Homo sapiens: one gene and its partners. The protein of the gene in region 4 interacts with the protein of the main gene of each other region in a pairwise test. Each region holds a gene or a part of one and is shown on either strand. Other genes may lie near its edges.

Region 1 (3,989 bases), on a different chromosome or scaffold from region 4:
CTGGGCGGGCTGCCCCGGGACCGCGGCTGGAACTCCCTCCAGTGTGACCAGAGCTTGGGCCCCAGCTGCGCAGGTTACTGTCACCATCTGCCCCTCGGAGACGCTGGGTTCGCTCAGGGTCAGGAGTGGTGCCGGGAAGCCTGGGGGCGGAGCATTTGGTCGTAGTATACTGACCATACCCCTCCCTCCGGTCAAGGCCCGCCCCTTATCTGCCCGAATCCTCGGGGTGCTGAGAACGAACTAGGGTACGGCGCCCCGCCTCTCAGGCTGTACAGGCTCCTCCTCCCCAGCGATTACGTCTCCGCCCCCACCTGCCCCGCCCCTCGGGCCACGCCTGTTCCGGTACTGAGGTCCCGCCCACTCTTCGCCCCGCCTTCGCATTCCTCTGGTCCCACCTCGGAGCCGCGGAGACCCCGCCTCCTTCCTTACTGTAGATGGTCACGTTCTCCCGGGTCTCCCGGTTTTCGCCCCCCAGGGTGACGTTGCAGACCAGCTGCCTGGCACCCTCCTGCTCTGCGCTAGCTGTGGCTGTGGCAGTGGCCACGAATGCGTCCCCTTCGAGGGTGACATCAGGACTCAGATTCTGGTCCCCCAGTGCGAGGTAGACCCTGGCCTCTGAGGCTGGAAACAGTCCGTCCAGAGTGCAGCTCACGGGCCTTTCCGAGCCAACTTCCAAGAGCCGGGGAGCAGCGAGGCGCGGGGCATCCGGAGACAGGGCTAGGGGTCGAAGAACCAAGTTTGAACTAACTCCGAGCGCTCAATATGTCCTAAGCACTTGACATGCACTATCTTATCGTATTATCATCCTCAAGGCACGGAGGGGGAAACAGCTCAGCCGGCGAGGGTTGAAGTCGGGGTCAGCATTCAGATGTATCTACCTCTAAACCTCCTAAACACCGACCGACCCCACTGGGTCCCCATCTCCTCCCCACACCCACTCACAGAAGGTTCGGAGCTCTCTGGGGGCCGAGCTGTTTTCAAACAGTCCCAGTCCGTGCGGCCGCAGGTCCAGCTCGGCGCGACACGAGAAATTGGCTCCATGGTCCTCCCTCCGAGCCAGTACCGTGGCTGTGAGCACCGCGCCCCGCGCTCGGGGTGGTTCACCGGCGAAGCTGCGGCGGATCAGCTCCTGGGCGCCCCGCAGCAGGGTCAGCGTGAGGCTCGCACGGGGCCCGGCGCCGGGGACCCTACAGCTCAGGGTGAAGTTCTCGCCCACCGGCTGCCAGGGAGGCAGCGGCATCAGCTCTACGCGATCTGGTCGCTCTGCAAGGGGGAAGAGTCCGCAGCTCTTTGAACACCGGGACTTGGAACAGAAGGTGGGGCCTGAAGGGGAGGACCCTGGGACCCAGGGGGCGGGGCCTGGGAGGGAGGGAGAGTAGTGGAGTACGCGCGTGGCCACCCAGAACTCACGGAAAGTGCGAATGAGCCCACGCGCCTGTAGTGTGCGCCGCGCGCAGCGGAAGAAGCAGACGGGCTGAGTCTCCGGCTCGCGAATGTCCACCAGCTGCCGCGCCAACCAACGCAAACCCCTCTGGGTCCCGTTTCGGCGCAGCGAGGTCTCCAGGCCACCGCGCTCCGGCCGAGGGCAGTTGGTGCTGCAATTCAGCCACAGCGAGCCCCCGCGCTCCACGAACGCCACGCGAGGCTGCAGGTCCGCCCAGAAGGGCTCCTGCGAGACCGCTGCCCAGGGAAACGCGGGCTGAGCCTGGGGAGCCAACTCCCTGACATCTTAGCGCCCCTATGTCGAGTCAAGGGTTCTCAGAGGGCGGGGAGGAGGAGGAGAGGCTGCAGCCAGGGAAAGAACCCAGGCGTCCCGCGTCCTGCCCAGGCCTCCGGTTTAAAGGCGCACTCCCAGAGTCTAAACCTCGAGGGTGTCTCTGGGACGTGGTAGCAGAGAGCCATGGTCTCCAAAGCGCCGATGGAGCGGCGGGAAAGCATGGGGGGAGGGCGTAGAGGAGAGGAAAGGTGGGTTCTTGGATGAACACAGCAAGGCTGAGAGAAGGGGACCCGGGATGGGGGATGGGGGATGAACCAGTTCTCAGGGTCCTGGCAGAATGCCGGGATACGAGGAGAGTGCGTTTGCGGCAAGGGCAAAGGAGAGACGAGGCTGGGTCAAGGATCAGGAAGGACCCTACACCCGGTGAAGAACACGGAGCCGGGACGCAAGGCTGGGCTCATGGAAGGAACCGCGGGAACAGCTGAGGGACCCGGTTGCCAGGGCTCTGGGTGGAGCGGGAACAGCGCCTCTGAGTCAGGGTAGTTGGAGAGATGGAGTCTTCGCGGACCGCGAGTGGGGAAGATGCCAGTCCGTGGACCATGGTGCACAGCACAGCGTAAGGAGGTACCCGGGGAGCGGACAGGAGAGACACTGGGTCTCCAGGGCGAAGGGTTGGGTGCGGAAGAACACCTAGGATCTCGAAGCGGGTAGGGGCTATCGAGGAGTCAGGAAGCTGGGGCTCGGGTGTGTGTTGGGGAGGAGGGGGAAGGGGAGAAGACTCAGGCTCGAGGTGGGGGCAGAGGCGTGGGAGCGAGGCGAGGGCAGAGCTGGGAGGGACAGGAGGCCGTTTCTCAGGTCCAGGGACTCCGCCCCCGCCCTGTCCACCCCGAACCAGAGCGGGGCTCTTACCTGAGAGGCCGAAGAGCCCCAGGCCCAGAGCAGCCCAGAGGCCGAGTAGCGCCCGGCGCAGCCCTGGCGAAGGCCCTGGCATCGCCGCGGCGGGGAAAGCACAGGAGGCGAGGAGAGCGCGAGCCGAGGAGCTGGGCTAGAGGACGGCTCCGCGCGGCGCGGCGGGTGGGGTGTGGGGGAGGCAGAGTTGCGCTTGGGGATTGGTTTAACGTTGGTAACTTGGTTTCCAAGGAGGGGGCGGCGGCAGAGGCGGCGGGGGGGCGGGAGGCGAGCGTGCGCTAAGCTCCTGGCCTTGGTGAAGGCGAGCTGGCAGGAGTGAGCGACCCCTGGGGTCTACGTGGAGGCCGGCATGATGGCCCAGGGCCTTCTGGGGGCGACCACGCTCTCTCGCGTCATCCCCGGCCGCGACTCTGGGATCGGGGGATGCTGGGTTGCCCTTCCCAAACCCCTACCCCAGCCCTGGCTGAGATGCCATGATAATAAGCTGGACTCCGAGCCCCGCCCCCACATTTAGCTCCTCCCACCAGCGCCCCTTAGGGCGGGGATACATTTGGGGACTAAGAGAGATTTGGGAGGCACTGGATGGGGAAAGGACAGTTCTAGGGGAGGGTGTGGGGATGCCTCTCTCACTGATCCTTCTCCTTTTGACCCCGCGGAGCCATACCTCTAAGCACCCCTCCGGGTCAGCTCCCGCACGCGACGGAGGGGGCGGGACGAAAGTGCCAGCGAGCCGAGGACACGTGTGCGTGCGCGCAGCGTTCGCGGGCGTCTAAATTAGAATCCGCTCGGCTCCGGGTCTGTATTTACCCAGGGTGCAGCGGGCACGTGTCTACTCAGCGTGTGTGAGCTCGAGCCACCCTGGAGCGCCCCTGAGTCCGCCTTCTGCTCGGTGGGTGGGGGCCCTGACATCCACGCGAGAACAAGGGACCGAGGGTGATGCTTTTGACTCCGCTTCCGGGCCCCAAGCTTTGACACCCCCCACCCCCAACTCCATGCGCTCATCTGGCTGGGTGACTACCAGAACATCGTCAGAATTCGAGTTTGTGATATTCCCTGTGGACCATCTGATCACCCCTTCCCGGCTGCCACCACATGGATACCTCTTCTGCGTATCCACGTCCCTCAATATGTCCGTGGGACCCTCCCCTCCCCACCATTCGTGGTCTCACTCCAGCGTGGTAAGTTATTTTGGAGATGAGTTCTCGCTCCACAGTTGTTTGGCCTCCAGGAAAGCACAGGGTCTGAAGGTGGGGCTGGGATAGGAAACTTAACATCCAATCAGAGCTGCCGCGTGGTGGCGGCGGCGCCAATCAGGAAAGCCATACCATGAACCCCACCCCGCCCCTGCCCGTGGCTCTCCCCG
Region 2 (3,500 bases), on a different chromosome or scaffold from region 4:
CTAATGCCTGATGATCTGTCACTGTCTCCCATCACCCCCAGATGGGACCATCGAATTGCAGGGAAACAAACTCAGGGCTCCCGCTGATTCTATATTATGGTGAGCTGTATAATTATTTCATTATATATTACAGTGTAATAATAACAGAAATAAAGTGCACCATAAATGTAATGCACTTGAATCATTCTGCAACCACCCCCTCCATGGTCTGTGGAAAAACTGTCTTCCAAGAAACTGGTCCCTGGTGCCAAAAAGGTTGGGGACTGCTGCACTACAGAACCACATCAAATCCTGAGGCTGGAAAGGGCCTCAAAAGTTAGATTATCTGCCTGGCAAGAAATGTTTGTCCTTTCTCAAGGAAGCCACACGAAATCACCATCTCACCCACAAATCTTTTCAATGTTTTATAACCTCTGAGTTCAATCTATATTAAATTTTAAAGTGCTTCCTAAAATGCCTTCTACTTTTTTTTTTTTTTTTTTTGAGACGGAGTTTCACTCTTGTTGCCCAGGCTGGAGTACAATGGCACGATCTTGGCTCACCGCAAGCTCCGCCTCCCAGGTTCAAGTGATTCTCCTGCCTCAGCCTCCCTAGTAGCTGGGATTATAGGCATGTGCCACCACGCCTGGCTAATTTTGTATTTTTAGTAGAGACGGTGTTTCTCCATGTTGGTCAGGCTGGTCTCGAACTCCCGACCTCAGGTGATCCGCCCGCCTCGGCCTCCCAAAGTGCTGGGATTACAGGCATGAGCCACCACGCCCAGCCTGCCTTCTACTTTGGTTTGAGTCATCCTGACACTGCTAAACTTCAGCTTCACTCAATTCTTTTTGCTTTACCTTTTATTTATTTATTTGTTTTTTGAGACAGGGTCTCACTCTGTTGCCCAGGCTAGAGTGCAGTGGTGCAATCTCAGCTCACTGCAACCTCTGCCTCCTAGGCTCAAGTGATCTTCCTGCTTCAGCTCCACAAGTAGCTGGGAGTACAGGCACGCACCACCATGCCCAGCTAATTTTTTTTTTTTTTTTTTTTAAAGACAGAGTCTCGCTCTGTCCCCCAGGCTGGAGTGCAATGGCGCAATCTTGGCTCACTGCAACCTCTGCCTCCTGGGTTCAAGCGATTCTTTGGCTTCAGCCTCCTGAGCAGCTGGGATTACAGGCACACGCCAACATGTCCGGCTAGTTTTTGTATTTTTAGTAGAGACAGGGTTTCACCACACTGGCCAGGCTGGTCTCAAACCCCTGACTTTGTGATCCACCCACCTCAGCCTCCCAAAGTGATAGGATTACAGGTGTGAGCCACTGTGCCTGGCTAATTTTTGTATTTTTTACAGAGATGGGGTTTCACCATGTTGGCTAGGCTGGTCTCAAACTCCTGATCTCAAGAGATCCACCCGCCTCAGCTTCTCAAAGTGCTAGGATAACAGGCGTGAGCCACCGCGCCCAGCCTTTGCTTTACTTTTAAACCCTCTCGTTAATATTTTCCTTTTGTCCTAGATCATCCATGTATTTTTTGGATACTACTAGGGGAGAATCAAAGCACAAAGAAGAAAGAAAAACGGGCAAAAGAAAAATAGGAATTGTAACTGTTGCTCAAAATTCTGGTGTCCTAGTCTATCCTAATCTTATTCCAGTTGCTAAGGTATATGTGAAAAGGATACTTCTTACCGGATAGTTCCTCGAAAAGAGTTCTTAAGAGGCATGGACCCCACATACAGGATGTGTACTTTGGCAAAGCGTGAATTGATGCTAGAGACCTGCGGAATAGAGAAAAGATCAGCATCAGAGTATAAGCAGTTGTCAGCTCAAGGAGGCAGCAATAAACTGGGGATTACTAGGGCTTCAGTGCAAGCAACCCTACTAAGTAGAGAATTTAAGACAAATTAACTCCTACTTCTCTCTGCGTAAGTGACACATGTAAAGAGGAATAAGAGCCACTCTGGCCACCTGGTAGAGTTACTATGGGAAACAAAGGTGGTATGGGTTTTTTTTTTTTTTTTTTTTTGAGACGGAGTTTCACTCTTGTTGCCCAGGCTGGAGTGCAATGGCGCGATCTTGGCTCACCGCAACCTCCGCCTCCTGGGTTCAAATAATTCTCCTGCCTTAGCCTCCTGAATAGCTGGGATTACAGGCATGCACCACCATGCCCAGCTAATTTTGTATTTCTAGTAGAGACAGGGTTTCTCCATGTTGGTCAGGCTGGTCTCGAACTCCTGATCTCAGGTGATTCGCCTGCTTCAGCCTCCCAAAGTGCTGGGATTACAGGTGTAAGCCACTGCATCCGGCTGGGTTTTTTTTTTTTTTTTTAAATCTTTTCACAACTTGCCCTTCAGAGAGGTATAGACTTTTTAAAGTATAGATGGCTAACAATTAAAAAAAAAAAAAAAAAAGAGGCTGGACACAGTGGCTCATGCCTGTAATCCCAGCACTTTGGGAGGCTGAGGTGGGCGCATCACTTGAGGTCAGGAGTTCAGGACCAGCCTGGCCAACATGGTAAAACCCCACCTGTACTAAAAATACAAAAATTAGCCAGGCGTGGCAGCACATGCCTATAATCCCAGCTACTCGGGAGGCAGAGGCAGTAGAATTGCTTGAACCCAAGAGGCCAGAGGCTGCAGTGAGCCGAGATCGTGCCACTGCACTCCAGCCTGGGTGACAGAGCAAGGCCCTGTCTCAAAAAAAAAAAAACAGGAATGGCAAAAAATAAAGTCTTTTGCTTCTCTGCAGAAAAAGAACTCAGCTTCAGATGTTCAAAAATAGGCCTCCTAATCATCCTCTGGCATCCCTGTTTCCCAGACACAGGTAGAACTATGTATTCAGGGAATCAGCTCAGTGAAGGAACTATGCATGCCTGAACTTGGCTGCCTTGATTATTATCCTAGAAATCTGTAAGCCTGCACAGTCCAGTAAAACTTTCTGTGATGACAGAAAAGTCATGTGCTGACCAGTATAGCAACCACTAGCCACAAGTGGCTATTGAGTACTTGAAATGTGGCTAATGTGACTAAGGAAATCAATTTTATTTTTTTCTTGAGAGACAGAGTCTTGCCCTGTTACCCAAGCTGGAGTGATCATGGCTCACTGCAGCCTCAACCCCCTGGGCCCAAGCGATCTTCCTGCTTCAGCCTCCCAAGTAGTTGGGACCACAAGCATGTGCTACCATGCCTGGCTAATTTTTTATTCTTCTTCTTCTTTTTTTTTGAGACGGAGTCTCACTCTGTTGCCCAGGCTGGACTGCTGTGACGCAGGCTCACTGCAACCTCCACCTCCTGGGTTCAAGCACTTCTCCTGCCTCAGCCTCCCGAGTAGCTGGGATTACAGGCATGCACCACCACGCTAAGCTAATTTTTGTATTTTTGGTAGAGACAGGGTTTCACCATGTTGGCCATGATTGGCCAGGCTGGTCTTGAACTCCTGACCACAGGTGATCTGCCCACCTCGGCCTCCCAAAGTGCTGGGATTACAAGCATGAGCCACCATGCCCGGCAATTTTTGATTCTTTTT
Region 3 (3,500 bases), on a different chromosome or scaffold from region 4:
GATTGGGCCTATCACTAGCCCTTAATTCCAATTCCTTGCATTTCTTTTCATCTTAGCATTTACCATTTTTTAAGGTCTACTACCAGTGATGATCCTTGTAAAGAGAGATACAGGACACAATTTAGGAAAGAATATCCCAAGCCTACTCTCTGACAATGTGATCAGATCCTCCTCACCTGTATTTGTTCCTCCTAGAGTGAACCCAGTGGCAGGTTTAGATCCAAAGAGCCCGGTTCCAAAACCACTTGAAGGAGCAGATGTAGTTGCTGGAGTTGAAGTACTTCCAAGATTTCCAAAATTGAGCCCCACAGAAGGGTTGCTTATTTAAAGAAACAAAAACAAAACAAAAATCACATGCACAAAAGGAGGTCTACTAGAGCCAATATTTACTTAAGAAAAATAAAAATTAACTCTTCAAGATAATTTCATTCACATAACATATCTAATACATTGTCATAGGACCCAAAAAGAAAAATAAATTTACCTTTAACCCATCAAGTTCAAATATGTTTCTGTTCTTCCTTAAAAATAAATCCACATGTAAAAGTAGTCTTAAAAAAAAATAAATCCACATGTAAAAGTAGTCTTAAAAAATACAATACCAGATTTCAGGCTGGGTGTGGTGGCTCATGCCTGTAATTCCAGCACTTTGGGAGGCCGAGGCAGGTGGATCACAAGGTCAGGAGTTCGAGACCAGCCTGACCAACAGGGTGAAACCTCGTCTCTTCCAAAAATACAAAAATTAGCCAGGTGTGGTGGTGGCACACGCCTGTAATTCCAGCTACTCAGGAGGCTGAGGCAGGAGAATTGCTTGAACCCGGGAGGCAGGTCGCAGTCAGCTGAGATAGTGTCACTGCACTCCAGTTTGAGTGACAGAGCGAGACTCCCTCTCAAAAAAAAAAAAAAAAAAAAATACAATACCAGATTTCAAGAAAAGCAGTCTACAGCAATAAGGATTCCAGATCTCAAGGTAATCATAAGTAGGGATCACAATTATTCTGCTTTCACCAATGTTTGAAACCTAGCATATTTTTAAATGGTCATAGAAAAGTTATTTTAAATTATCTTCACTAGCTTTCCATTGCTACATTACCACATTCATGGGGCAATGTGGTGTTGGGGAGAGTATAGACTTAGGTATTTTACCACCAAAAAAAGCATAGAAAAACTAGTGGGGACATTTCCTGGCAAAAGTTAAACGCAAAGCAAAATCACCCTGTCTCAGGATCATGTATTCATTAACAGAAACTCTTCAGAGCACAGTGCAAAGCTTAAAAAAAGAACAGCTGATAAAAACAAGTGAAAGTGAACAAACTTCACAACTTTTCAACTACTCTTATCAAGACTCAGGGGTTCAGATTTGCTATGAAAAGGTGGGAAGACAAACTGTGAAAATAAGCAAATTTTGACAAGTTGACACTTCCAAAATTATGTAGGAGATTTAAGGGAGACTATACAGCATAATGGCAAATTCTCTTTATCCTACATATTTATCTTTATTATTTCCTTTGCTGCCCTTCCATAAAGAATAATCACCATGGGAGAACCCAATGTCATTTTTAAAGTCTCAAAAGCCCTGGCAGCAGTAGTGTGGCTGGGTTCCAGTACCAATCCCCCCATGTTCTGGTACTTGTGTGCCATTACTTAACCTTTCTGAGCCTCTATTTCCTCATCTGCAAAACAGGAATTAACAGTACCCACTTAGCAGATTTTTTTTTTTTTTTTTTTTTTGAGACGGAGTCTCACTCTGTTGCCCAGGCTGGAGTGCAGTGGCACTCCGCAAGCTCCGGCTCCCGGGTTCACCCCATTCTCCTACCTCAGCCTCCGGAGTAGCTCAGACTATAGGTGCCTGCCACCACACCCAGCTAATTTTTTGTATTTTTACTAGAGACAGGGTTTCACCATGTTAGCCAGGATGGTCTCAATCTCCTGACCTCGTGATCCACCTGCCTCGGCCTCCCAAAGTGCTGGGATTACAGGCGTGAGCCACCGCACCCGGCCAGCAGAATTTTTTTTTAAATATAAGGGTTCAGAGCACAGGATGAATTAACTTCAATAAATGTTGTTATGACTGTTATCATTAGGGATACTTATAAATTTAACTAAACATATTATGTACAAGGCGTTATGCCAGGAATAGCAAGGGAGCAGAAAGATGTCCCCTAGTCAAGGAACATGCCGTTTACCAGGGGGATAAACAACACAAATAACTGTACTCCAAGCCAGAAGAGTTCTCCAAGTTACTTGGGTCCGGGTGTCTTCAATTTCATAATCAGCTTAAGAAGCCACTCAAATTTTTGCAAACACTGGGAGACAAGGAGGAAAAGAAATACTCAAGCAGGAGATAATTCAAGCAGTAGAAATGTACACACCTTCAGTAAGTTTAGAATTACTATAAGTAAGATTATAATCAAGTACCAAACGATGGCAAAGAGATACTGCAGAAGTTTGAGGCAAAGAGCTAATCACTGTGAGGGGAATGGAGGTGGAGGAGCTTATTAAGGGTAGAACTTGAGATGTGCCATCCATACTGAGTAGGTAAAAGGAGAAGTACTGATTTTTAAAATGTGTTTGTGTGCACCTTGGGCATATGAAGGCGAGGCAGGAGACAAAGCAGGGCGGTAAGCTCTCGCTAACAATTAAAACACAGATCTTGACCAGGCCGGGTGGCTCACACCTGTAATCCCAGCACTTTGGGAGGTTGAGGTAGGCAGACTGCTTGAGCCCAGAAGCTTGAGCCCAGCCTGGGCCACATGGTGAAACTCTCTCTACCGAAAAAACAACAACAAAAAACTTCCAAAAAACAAAAATTAGCCAGGCGTGCCAATGCACACCTGAATGTAATCCCAGCTACTCAGGAAGCTGAGGTGGAAAGATCACTTTAGCCCAGGAGGTGGAGGTTGTAGCGGGCTGAGATTGCGCCACTGCATTCCAGCCTGGGAGACAGGGCAAGGCCCTGTCTCAAAAAAAAAAAAAAAAAAAAAAAAAAAAAAACCCCACAGATCTTTAAACATTTAGTCTTAATTTAAAAGGTATTTTTAACAACATATTGCTACAATCAAAACTAAGTGAGATCACACACACAGAAACCTAAGTGAGCGCTACAAGCAAAAGAATATAGTATGTAATGGCTATATCCAGACAACATAGGTAGTACAACCATAAAAGGGGCATATATGCCAAAACATTTAGCTTAGCTGGTAGTAGTCTGATCGTATTGTTATTTTGACACTGTTGTGTGTATAATGTGGAGTAGGGTAAATGAGTATTTGGGGGATACTAAAACATTACTGCCGGCTGGGTGTGGTGGCTCACGCCTGTAATCCCAGCACCTTGGGATGCCAAGGTGGATGGATCACCTGAAGTCAGGAGTTTGAGACCAGCCTGGCCAACATGGTGAAACCCCATCTCTACTAAAAATACCAAAAATAAAAATAAAAAATTTAGCCGGGTGTGGTGGCGTGCCTGTAATCCCAGCTATTTGGGAGGCTGAGGCAGGA
Region 4 (3,500 bases):
TCATTATGGGAAAGAATCGGTAATTTGGTTGACTTCTGCACGGTTATTTTATAGCTAAGTATTGTATTTATTTTTGTTTCCACATGGGAGAGAGGCACCAGCCACTTTTCACTGTTAGGGTTTCTTTTTCTTTTTTTTTTTTTTTTTTGAGATGGAGTCTCGCTCTGTCGCCCAGGCTGGAGTGCAGTGGCACAATCTTGGCTCACTGCAAGCTCCGCCTCCCGGGTTCACGCCATTCTCCTGCCTCAGCCTCCTGAGTAGCTGGGACTACAGGCGCCCGCCACCACGCCCGGCTAATTTTTTGTATTTTTAGTAGAGACGGGGTTTCACCATGTTAGCCAGGATGGTCTCAATCTCCTGACCTCGTGATCCACCCACCTTGGCCTCCCAAAGTGCTGGGATTACAGGCGTGAGCCAACTGTTCAGGATTTCTAAAGTTCCTAATACAACCCTGGTGGGGTCAGGGTGGGTGAGTGGGAGTGGGCAGGTGTTATACGCAAAGGCATGGTGCTTGTAAAGTCAACAAGTTTTTACAGCTAGAGTGCAAAATGTGAATGTCTTAGGGAGTCTAGTGAGAACAAGTTTGAAGAGATGGAGTGGCAGATAAAGCTTGAAGAGCTAAGTGGAGGAGGTCAGGCTTCATGAGGCAGGAAATTGAGAGCCATTGGTGGTTCTAGAACAGAGACCTGGTAATAAGGCTGTAGGTCAATTAACATGGTAGCCACAGCTGGGATAGATTGTGTTGGAATCGTGGGAGATGGTTGCATTCATCCAGTGGTTCTCAAATTCTCATGTGCCTCTACATCACCTGGAGAGCTTATTGAAATACAGATAATGCAGCTTCTGGCTGGGCACGGTGGCTCACGCCTGTAATCCCAGCACTTTGGGAGGCTGAGGTGGGCGGATCACTTGAGGTCAGGAGTTCCAGACCAGCCTATCCAACATGGTGAAACCCCATCTCTACTAAAAATACAAACATTTGACTGGGTGCAGTGCCTCACACCTGTAATCCCAGCACTTTGGGAGGCCGAGGCAGGCGGATCACCTGAGGTTGGGAGTTCCAGACCAGCCTGACCAACATGGAGAAACCCAGTCTTTACTAAAAATACAAAATTAGCCGGGCATGGTGGTGCATGCCTGTAATCCCAGCTACCCGGGAGGCTGAGGCAGGAAAGTCGCTTGAACCCGGGAGGCAGAGGTTGTGGTGAGCCGAGATCACACCACTGCACTCCAACCTGGGCAACAAGAGTGAAACTCTGTCTCAAAAAAAAAAAAAAAAATTAGCTGGGTGTGTTGGCACATGCCTGTAGTCCCAGCTACTTAGGAGGCCGAGGCAGGAGAATTGCTTGAACTTGGGAGGGCGGAGGTTGCAGTGAGCTGAGATCATGCCACTGTACTCCAGCCTGGGCAACAGAGCGAGACTCTGTCTCAAAAAAAAAAAATGCAGATGATGCAGCTTTTGATGAAGTCGTAGGCCTGGGGTGGGGGCCTAGGAATCTGCATTCATAACAAACTCCCAGGTGAAATGGATGGTACTGGTCAGGGACCATACTTTGAAAACTACTGCACTAATCCAACCATGAAACTTACATTTGGATCGAACTTTGGAAATGACAGAGAAAGGGCGATGATTTCAAAGGAAAGATAAATCAGCGTATGTTGCTTGATTAAATGTTGGAACTAACAGAAGGCAGGCAAAATTATAAGGTTCTCAAGCCCAAAGTAATGTCAGATAAGCTAGATAAGAGGGAAGTTGGAAAGGAAGTTGCCTTGGATGCAGGATGAGGAGGGGAGGATACAGAGTTCTGTTTTGGACATGATAGTGCTAACAATGATGCCCAGTGCACAGTATGATGACATGGGACTGAGACTTAGGAACGATCACAGGTTAGAAGCCAGATACCTCAGAATGTCCTACAGAGGGGCTGTGGTTGAAACCTAGGGAAGGGAGAAATTGTCCAATGGCTAAGAGCTGAGAGTCAACCAAGGATGGAACCCTGGGACAGGCCTCCAGTTGATGAAGTAGGACCAGTAAGTTGGACAGAGAAGCAGAAAGAGATTCTGGATGTTGTAATTACACAGGTGCTAAGGGAAGAGAAGTTTTCAAAGAAGTAGAAGTCACAAGGGTAGGTGCCTGGATACTTCTGGTTTCTTACCTCCTGTTGTGAATCTGACTGGCAAATTGCTACTCACCTTCTACACCCAGCTGAGCCATTGCCCCCATGAAGCCCTCCTAGACTTTCCACCTCTCCCTACTCAAGTGGAGTCATTCTCCGTCTGCTTTGCATCAGTCCTGCCCCTTGGGTAAAACCTCAATTGTAGTTGGTTGCTTTTGTTTATGCTTCTGAGGTCTTAACCTTGGTGAAGTGTGGAATGGGGAACACTCAGAATGCTGTTTTCAAATAGCTGTGCCAAGAAACTCAGCTCAGGTGAAGCTTGTCCCTTTGCACAAGGCCAAGTTAGAGGGGAAAATAGGGCCCAGGTGTGGATCATCTTGCTGCTCCCACCTCCACCTGCAGGCGTTTTTCTGCCCACTTCCCTGGGGGTAGGGAGGGAGGAAAGGCTATAAAAATGGGCAACCAACTCTTTATAGAGATTTGTTTCATGTTAGACTCTCCTGTCCAAGGAGCAGGGAAAGAATGTCTTAATTTTTTCCTGAAAGTAGCTTGTTACGAGTTAAATTGTGTACCCTGAAAATATATATGGTTAAGTTCTTAACCCCCGTGCCTCAGAATGTGACCTTATTAGTTAAGATTAGTTCAGGTGAGGTCGTAAGTAGGGTAGGATGGACCTTAATCCAACATGACCAGAGTCCCTATAAGAAAAGGAGAAGGAGACACATGGAGAATGCTATGTGACAACAGAGGCAGAGATAGGAGTGACACATCTAGAAACCAAGGAACACCAAGGACTGATGGCCACTGCCAGAAGCTAGAAGAGGCAAGGAAGGATTTTTCCCTAGAGCCTTTGGATAGAGTATGGCCCTGTCCACACCTTGATTTCAGACTTCTAGCCAACTGCTAGCCTCTAGGACTCGGCGACAACAAATTTCTGTTGTTTTAAGCCACCCAGTTTGTGGTGTTTCGTTATGGTATCCCTAGGAGGCTAATTTATACCTACTCATAGAAACTTAGGAAAATACATTGAAGGATAAACTAACCACCCATAATTCCACCAAGCAGGTAATCACTGTTCCCAGTGTTAGTGTCTATCTTTTGGGGTTTTGCCTGAAGACTGACAACTGTAGAGATATTTCTATCCTTGCAAAATTGAGCCCACCCTGTAGAGAGTATTCACATTTAAACAGAAGACAAGCTAGAACAGGTATTGAAAGAAAACAATTTTATTGTCTTATGGTGAATTTTTAGATATTGGGGCACCTCAGGAGGGGTGAGTTTTCTGGGGGAAAACCTGCCTGTTGAGACAGAATGGGTGATAATGTGAGGGCCCTTTGGAGAAGGCAGCTTTATATTGAGAGAGAGAGAGAGAGAGAGAAGAGA

Evidence for each region.
Region 1: the proteins of ASB9 (region 4) and ICAM5 interact in binary tests that used the Homo sapiens proteins (3 or more experiments, as listed by UniProt).
Region 2: the proteins of ASB9 (region 4) and EXOSC1 interact in binary tests that used the Homo sapiens proteins (3 or more experiments, as listed by UniProt).
Region 3: the proteins of ASB9 (region 4) and NUP58 interact in binary tests that used the Homo sapiens proteins (3 or more experiments, as listed by UniProt).

The regions. Positions count from the first base shown.
Region 1 is NC_000019.10:10,288,763-10,292,751, reverse strand, and holds the start of ICAM5 (intercellular adhesion molecule 5 precursor), read right to left. Parts: upstream 2,801-3,989; 5' UTR 2,709-2,800; coding exon 2,627-2,708; intron 1,681-2,626; coding exon 1,411-1,680; intron 1,264-1,410; coding exon 943-1,263; intron 718-942; coding exon 430-717; intron 141-429; coding exon 1-140. UniProt on the Homo sapiens protein: ICAM proteins are ligands for the leukocyte adhesion protein LFA-1 (integrin alpha-L/beta-2).
Region 2 is NC_000010.11:97,439,507-97,443,006, forward strand, and holds part of EXOSC1 (exosome complex component CSL4), read right to left. Parts: intron 1,754-3,500; coding exon 1,665-1,753; intron 1-1,664. UniProt on the Homo sapiens protein: Non-catalytic component of the RNA exosome complex which has 3'->5' exoribonuclease activity and participates in a multitude of cellular RNA processing and degradation events.
Region 3 is NC_000013.11:25,304,625-25,308,124, reverse strand, and holds part of NUP58 (nucleoporin p58/p45), read right to left. Parts: intron 522-3,500; exon of another isoform or gene 485-521; intron 320-484; coding exon 177-319; intron 1-176. UniProt on the Homo sapiens protein: Component of the nuclear pore complex, a complex required for the trafficking across the nuclear membrane.
Region 4 is NC_000023.11:15,263,584-15,267,083, reverse strand, and holds part of ASB9 (ankyrin repeat and SOCS box protein 9), read left to right. Parts: intron 1-3,500. UniProt on the Homo sapiens protein: Substrate-recognition component of a cullin-5-RING E3 ubiquitin-protein ligase complex (ECS complex, also named CRL5 complex), which mediates the ubiquitination and subsequent proteasomal degradation of target proteins.